3 separate regions of the Homo sapiens genome follow, and all the other regions are linked to region 1. The links come from fine-mapping of genetic effects on gene expression. A gene starts in region 1. Each other region holds a variant in brackets. All regions are shown on one strand. Distances are between the middles of the regions. Region 1 holds the start of LIMCH1 (LIM and calponin homology domains 1). Region 2 has its middle 120 kb from the start of UCHL1. Region 3 has its middle 110 kb from the start of UCHL1.

What was found. PIP is the estimated chance that this variant, and not a neighbour inherited with it, causes the effect. A credible set is the group of variants that fine-mapping cannot tell apart.
Region 2: its variant is the best candidate, but not a certain one, in a credible set for the expression of LIMCH1 in unexposed skin (GTEx, PIP 0.55).
Region 3: its variant is the best candidate, but not a certain one, in a credible set for the expression of LIMCH1 in monocytes (TOPMed, PIP 0.58).

What each region holds. Positions count from the first base shown.
Region 1 is chr4:41,536,736-41,539,502 of GRCh38, reverse strand. It overlaps LIMCH1 (LIM and calponin homology domains 1), which reads right to left and starts at 1,346. Exons shown (of 32, transcript NM_001330672.2): 1 at 1,153-1,346.
Region 2 is chr4:41,372,581-41,375,347 of GRCh38, reverse strand. It overlaps a transcript of LIMCH1 not described here. Among named protein-coding and RNA genes, the nearest start is that of UCHL1, 120 kb to the right of the region's middle. The variant T/C (reference allele first, on the strand shown) is at 1,228.
Region 3 is chr4:41,368,261-41,371,027 of GRCh38, reverse strand. It overlaps a transcript of LIMCH1 not described here. Among named protein-coding and RNA genes, the nearest start is that of UCHL1, 110 kb to the right of the region's middle. The variant A/G (reference allele first, on the strand shown) is at 1,714.

The DNA.
Region 1 (2,767 bases):
AGTTATGGCTGCCCAGTCACCTTCTAGTCACCTTACAGAGAGAGCAGGAGAGCAGAGTGGCACATACCCTCAGGCAGGATTCCTGAGTCAAAGGCTGGCTGCTGACACTTGCAGCCTCTCGGTTTTATTTGACCTTCACCTTGTGCGGAACCCACCCGCGCAGCACAGGACAAACCCCTTCTCCCGGGACTGCTGAATCAGCCACTCTGGGAGTGGCAGGAGAGAAGTTTCAGACTCCTGAGACATTTGGTCTATTCAGCACCATGAAGAAAACGGCTGTAGCTCAGTGAGAGAATCACAATCAGGAGCTGGCTGAATAAAGGTGATAAAAATAGATTTCCCGACTCCACAAAGATGAATCATTTTGCCATAGGGATTCGCCAGGCTCTGTTTCAACCTGATTTTCAACCCAGCCTCATAAATTTGGCTAAGGAAAATTTTCTTCCCCTAGATAACCAGTGCCATGGAACGTTTAGCATTCAGACGGGTCTGACGGGATTTTATGAGACAATTGTCCAGAAATAACCCCCATTCCTTTCCCGGCCTGCAGTAAATAGTGACTATGAAGGACAAGGACTAAGTGGGCAAGGCTGGAGATGCAGCCCTTCCCTCCAGACTCCTCCCTGCCTCCCCAATGTCTTCCTTGCTTCTTTTCCTCCTCATTTTAAGAAATGGAAGTTTTTAAAAAGCAAAGGGGGCTGTGGAGTCAGGAGCAGAATGTGACAGGGGCTCAGGTGAAGCAGCCCCACCATGAATGCAGCCACATCTCCCCCACAACACCATGTGCTGCTGGACCACATCTTAAAAATGCAGCCAAGTTGCTTCTCATTCTCAAAATTCTCAAAAATCCTTTTTATTTTGACTAAACTAATGGAGTTATGTGTCTTGTACCACATACCGGAAAATAAAAAACAATGCTTTCCTTAGGGAATTAAAAAAAAAAAAAAGCTTAATTAAAAGCAACAGGTGCTAACAGTTATCAAAGGACAAGATGAATCCACAGGAAAGTAATTTTCATATTATTTTCGCCATACTAATAAGTGAATAAAAAGTCACTTTTTTTTAAACCAAGTATTAAAGTCTAAATAGCTTCCTTCTTTCCATCATGGATACCCCTAAGCATGTATTTCTTTTATAATGAATTTTACTTACCCCCACACGTCCTCATGCTCCGCAATGAACTCCAGCCAACCCACTCTGGGAGATGGGAGGGGCATCTCTCCTGTGTGCTCCTCGTCAGCCCCAGCACAGCAGCCGAAATGCCCTTACATTTCCTTTCCCAAAACAGTCGTCACCACTGCCAACCCCTGCTCTGTCCACAAGCAGGCTGCTGCGGCTGAAATGCTGATGCAGTGAAAGGGAACTGGAAGACAGCTGATTGCCACACCTATTGGAGAGGGAGGCGGAGAAGCCCATTCCCTCTGAGGAAAAGGAATGGCATCTTCAGAAGTAGAGATGCCAGGATTGGAATTGTGCAGAGAGCTTTGTGTCAGCCACTAGCACACAGTAGGTTTGCAGTACTGTCAGGAAATCTGGATCTAGAAAAAGCACCCAAGTGGGACCCGAGGAACAAAGACTCACTCCAGTCCCAACTCTGGAACAAAGTTGCTGCCTGACTCCAGGCAAGTCACTGCCTTCTGGTCTCAGTTTCCTTATTTGTAAAATAACAATGTTTCAAAAAGTAAATCTCTAAGTGGCTTCTAGTTCTGGGATTCTAAGACCATCCTAATGTTCATGAGCATAATAAAAAGTAAACTACCATTTATTGAAAACATCCTGTGTACCATCCATCATATTAGGTATTTTATGTATATCATCTCATTTAATCCCACAATGCTGAGATGGGATTTATCAACCCCATCTTATAGATGAGGAAACTGGCAAACTCACTCCATGAATCCCCATGAAAAAAAAGGATCATCATATTCCTTCAGTGTTTTGAATTTAAATGGAGGCATTCAATCTTTGTGCCTGAAATTGAGATGACATCTGAGAATGGAATTTCTGCACTGCTGGGAGATTAATGTGTTTACAGTCCTCTGCTGGTATAATTCTGAGGTACTAGTATTTATGGTTATGGCTGTTCATGCTACTGCAAAATCCATTTTCCACCTGTTGCTTTTTATTAAACCTCCCTAAAGGACATGAACTATTTCTTTCTGCAGATTCTAAAAGCAGGATGCTGAAATATGTGAGCAGAAGCATCGTGTGCGGAGTTACCATTTGGAATTTTCAAATGCTATAAAACACAATGTTTACAACCAATTCATCATTTATAAAAGTTTATTGGATTAATATGCCAATGGACTCACTGGTATCCTGCCATTTATTGACACAAATACATCAAGTGGTAGGCTGACATTTAATATTTATTAATAACTTCTGTATTTCCTTACCTATTTCATAGTTTCCTTGCATTATGCTCTTTTATCTTTATTGTCATTCATCCTACTTTAAGTGAACTTTTTATTTTAGAATAGTTTTTAGATTTATAGAAAGCTACAAAGATAATATGCAGAGTTTCAGTATAACTCATGTCTTACATCTTACATTCCTATGGTACATCTACATTTATCACAGTTAAGAAATAAACACTGGTACACTACTATTAACTAAATCCATGTTTTATTTGGATTTCATTAGTTTTTCCCTAATATGCTCTTTCTGTTTTAAGATCCCATCTATAATGCCATATAATATTTAATCATTATGTCTCCTTAACTTTTTCTGGACTTTCCTTGTTTCTCAGATATGCCTTGCTTTTGAT
Region 2 (2,767 bases), 160 kb after region 1:
TATGGGTTGGGCACTTGACATTCAGTGATACCTCTAAAAATAGCACTGTTCTAGTCTTATAAAAATAGGAGTAAAACAATCTATTAATGCCTCTTTTTAACCACTCCCAGCTTATAATCTTATACTCACCTCCAAGAAGTAGTCAGTGTTCTGAATAGTTCATTTTAATTATTTCCTTCCTTCCCTTATCATCTGTGTGTTCTTGTATATTACCACATTTTTAATAAAATGTTAGTAACAATTGGTGGTAGCCTCTTTGGCATCCACTTTACCCATTCTTCTACTAAAAGTACCCAGATTTTCCTCTAGGGAATTCACTGCTTCTCTGTTGGGTAGCAGCCAGCATCTTTGATAGGGACGGACCAGGGTGAAGTCTGATTGGCTTAGGCTAATCAACTCATCTATTTCCCTGGTGATCATGAATGAGAATGTGTCCTCTTTCTCTGCCCAGAGGGTGTAAAGAGAACTTGAGGACTGGAGTCGCTCTTTCCCAGCCAGCCTTTAGTGGAAAAGCCTGGACCTTCTGAAGTGGGGTAGGGCAGGTGTGGAGGCCCTATGTAAAGCCAGAGCATAAAGCCACACAATGCACAGCACGGTGGAAAGAGAGAGAGAATCCAGATCCTTACTGATATCATTGAGCTGCTGAGTCAGCCTTTGTATGAAGTAGGGATCTACCTCCAGAACGTCAATGAGCAATCAACTGTCTATTTTTTAGAGCCAGTTTTGGTTGGATTTCTGTTGCTTGCAACCATAAGAATGCTAACTAAAACAAAAAAAAAAATTGAATGAAAAAAATTATTAAACACACACACAGAGTTTAAAATAAAATAAGAAATACATTTTTAAATATATCATACTACTTACAACTCTTGATGGAAGTTAAAAATGAGTGGCCTATCATGTCAGAGCAATACCAGGGTTCATCAGGCTGCTTGGGAACCAGAGTCCCCATGCATTAGAATGTGGGGTTTGGGAGATGCCTGGAGCACTCTTTCTATACAATCACTCTCCTTCCCAGGTGGCAAAACTGTCAAGGTGAGAGGACTTATTTTTGGAGTTTCTTTTAAAATACAGAAAACATGTCTAAAGCCAACACTGGCCTCCAGCATCCTTAGGCATCCCCTACCTCTACCCTCCTGCCCCCAGCTCTTTACTGCTGTTCCCCCTCATCAATATCCCTCACAGACACCCTTGGTCAACAGCCTGCATTTGCACCCTGTATTAGTC[T/C]GTTCTCACACTGCTATATAGAACTACCTGAGGCTGGGTAATTTATAAAGAAAAAAGGTTTAATTGGCTTACAGTCCTGCAGGCTCTACAGGAAGCATGGCTGGGGAGACTCAGGAAACTTACAATCATGGCAGAAGGGGAAGTAGGCATGTCCTGCATGGTAGGAACAGGAGGAAGAGAGAGCAGGGGGAGGTACTACACACTTTTAAACAACCAGATCCCGTGAGAGCTCCCTCACTATCTCAAGAACAGCAAGGGGGAAATTTGCCCCCATGATCCAGTCACCTCCCACCAGGCCCCTCCTCCAACATTGGGGATTACAATTCAACATGAGATTTGGGCAGGGACATAAATCCAAACCATATCACACCCCATAGCATGGTGGTTAGGAGCACAGGTAAAGCAGCCAGACTGCATGAGTTTGAAGATCAGCTCTACCACCTAATGACCGTAAAACCCTTAGCCATTCACTCATTTCTAGGTTTAATGGGAGTAATAAGAGTTTGTAGCTAGCTCATAGGATGGTTGAAAAGTCAGGTGCTTAGGACAGAATTTGCCAGGCCATAAGCTCTCATAAATGTTAGCTATGTTTCTATTCTTTTGTCAGGAACTATAGTAATTTGAGAGAGTTTGGAGAAAATCCAACTGCTGTCCTCCCAGACAAGGCCAGCCATGGCCCAGGCCGGGCCAAGAAGCACGGAGGATTCCTATCTTCGGTGCCAGGACCATGCAGCTTTCCTGCAGCCCACTCTAGCTTCATCCTGCACCTCCCTCATACCTACTCCCAAAGCTCCTGCCTTACTGGTCTTCTTCAGCTCTTCCATTAAGGCAAACACTACAGCCTGAAGTGTTTGCCTAGAACATGATTTCTTGCTCATTTTTGCATGGCCAACCCCTGCTCATCCTTGGGGTCTCAGCTTACATAGCACTTCCTCAGAGAGGCTGTCCCATTGCCCCTTAGACCAAAGGAGATCCCGGCCCTTTTTGTGTTCCAGACCAACTTGCTCTTCCCTTTCCAAGCATGCATCACACGCGTGATTCTGTGCTCAGCGTCCATCCTTCCAGGTGGAATGGAAATCTCACATTTGTCTCTCATACTACTGAGTCCCTAGGACACGCTCAATAACTATATGATGAATGAATGAATGATGTCCCAAACGGAGACAAATTGCCAATACTCATATACTGGTGTAGAAAGGGCTCCAGAGAACAGGAATAATCGCAGCCAAGAAGTCACTGACCCTCAGACAAATTGCCAACCCTCAAGTCTCAGTTTCCTCATTTCCAACTCACTTAAGCTTCTCACTCACAATAAGTAACTCCTGTAGGTTTCCTGGATGAAAACAGTGCTGCTTTATGTAGTACCCAGGCACAAAATCTCAAAGAAAAATGGATCAGAAAAACACACACACAGACAATATTCAACTACCTCCTCCAAAGGCAACAGAAGCTTCTCCTGGAAATGTTGTCCAAGGTCTTCTGATAGCAGATAGGAAATGTGAAATTCCTAAAGAAAACATTTTCCATATGACCCAAGATC
Region 3 (2,767 bases), 170 kb after region 1:
AGCGGGACACAGCAGTCACCAGTCCAAGCTCTGGAACCAGTTTGCCTGGGTTCAAATCCCAGCTCTGCCACTGATTATCTGTGTGGCTTCAAGCATATCACTTACCATTTCCGTGCTTCCATTTTCCCATCTGTAAAACGGCCATAAACAGTGCTTGCTTGAGAAGTATCTTATATATCAGGCACTGTGCTGGGTGTTTGTTCTATACACAATATACCACCTCATGCAAGCACCTACACTACCACTCAAGCAAGCTCCTAGACTACCGCTTGTACATGGTAAGTGTTCCAGAAGTGTGTTTGCTGTTATTTTTATTTGGCACTGAACTAGCCATTTTTATCACTATTATCACACTCTGTCAACTCTAACAGCATAATGAATCAGGCTTCTACTTGTCACTGGCCCCTCCTATTTATGACATCTTGCATGGTCCCTTAGGGAAAAAGGTGGCAACCTCATCTGTTGGCTGATGACAACATTCAGCTCCACAGGCAACTTTTTTTTTAATTTTCCATAGGAAAAGAAGAGGGGATGCTATTTCTCAGTGCTCCCATTGGGTCATGACAATTAACAGTCACAGCCGTGGCCATTTATTGATACCATGGATACCAGCTACTAGTCAGTTATTTTGGGTTTTTTTCCTTTAAAAATACCTGTCTAATAAGAACTCATACAGGTGACCACTATAATAAAAATTCTTCCATTTCTTTTTAGATTCACTATCATTGGAAGTGCTCTATCTTTCCCTCATCCTAAGAAGTGGGAATTAGCTAGACTTCTATAACAGGTGAAAGAGAGGTTTGCTTTGACTTAGGGAAAGAAAGAGAAGGTGAGAGCCCTAAGGCCGAATGCTGGGGGCATGTTTATTTAAAGAAAAGAGATGTCTGCTCTCCCGCCTTGCAGCCAGGAACTCCAACGAGCCCTGACCCAGTCTAACTTGAGGGGAGGGTTAGCACCCTAAAGAATATCTTCACCCAAGGGCCAACAGAGAAATCACCCTCCGAGTGTCCAATCACTGACTGTCTCCAGGCAACTATTGGGTAAACTGCTTTTTTTAATCACTACAAAACACACACACACACACACACTTTGCTTCCTGTCAGGGCAGCAACAGAGTCTATTTTCTCTGCCACAGCCAAGTCCAAGTGCCAATCAGGCAACCGTAGCTGGGCACAGACTCACTGAGAAAGCGCTCAGGCAGTGGGGAAATGTGGCTGTGAGGCCCTAGTGAGGAACAGCCTGGCTGAAACAAGGAGGGAACAGGGTGATGACTAAGACGCAGTCCTTGGCCACAGGGCTCTGGGGTTCACCAAAGGAGGCAAATCCCCCCACCACACACACACACAAAAAAAATTCGTGATAGTAAAATACAGCAACTTTTCTAAAAAAAAGGCAAAAACTGAGGCTCAGGTGTGTACAAAGAAGGGAAGGATTAATGAGCTTAGAGGAATCAGGGACCATGCTGCAGAGGCAGTCGGGTTTAAGCTCTATCTTGAAAGGATTTGTCCCTGGAGAAGTGGAGAAGGGGCATTCCAGGTTGTGGCTACCCCAATAGCCATTCTCCCCTTTTTCCTGAGGAATACAACTCAAGAATATTATCTGAGCATTACTCCTGCCTGGGGTAAAAGATCCTTCTCCAGAGTCTCTCCTATATACAGAAAGGGCCATGTTCCTGAAGTTCTGGGCAATAAAATAGTAGCCAGTATGTCAGAA[A/G]GGGTTTCCCAGAAGCCACCTTATATGGGAAGGATGCACTCTTCACTTTCCTTGCCTCCATCCAGCTTCCTGGAAAGGTGATGTGATCACGACTCTCCAGCAGCCATGTTAGACTGGGAAGATGGGGGAGGGGGTCTAAGAATGGTAGTTCAAGTGTTGAAAGGAATCTCAGTCAAGGACCTCCAGGGTTTACAATTTATGAGGATCCCAAAGGGCACCTGGCTTTAGTAGTTTATAAAGCCCCCTCTTTTGGAAGAATTTGGGAAAAGTTCCCAAATGAGAAGACATCTGTGGGTCACCACCCTAAGTCTCACACAAAATGGCTCTCTTCCCTCACTGAAAAGCAAGCAGGTTTCCCGCAGCCCCTTCCTGCTAAGAGTGGAGTACAGCCTCTACAGCCTCTATTTTGTCCAAGAATTTTAATCCAGAGTCTAGGCTCAAACACAAATCCCAAAGTCCTCTCCGCATTTTTCTTAGAAGAGTTCTTATCTGTGCCTCAGATGTAAAATGGACAGTGGATCATCATGCAAACTCTGAGTGGCCTGCAAGGAATATTCAAGAACTTCCGAGGCAGGTACCTTCACCCCCTGCCCTACCACCAACACATATCTACCTTCAATAGACCTAGAGAAATTTAAGAGTGTTTCTACCCTACCTTGTTTCAAAACACAATCATAATAAAAGTATGTGTAGCATCCAACGCAAGCCCTTTTCTCAATAAATCATCATCAATCAAATTCTCCTGCTTAGAATTCTTCCGTGGTCTTAGCTTAAATCTTATTTTCACTAAGAATCCTTGTCTTTTTAAAGAGTGCTTTTCTCTTAATCCCCCCTGCCCCATTCTTTGTCTTCATAGTATGTATTCCAAATCGTAATTATATATGTATTGTTTAATCTCTCTGTCCCCCTGCCACATTGTATATTTCATGAGGGCAGGAAGTATGTTTATTTTGTTCATTACCTAACACCATGCCTAACACTATGCTGCACATTGTTGGAGCTCAGTAAACACTTTTCAGGAAATAATTTTTGAAAGCACACTTTCACACATTAA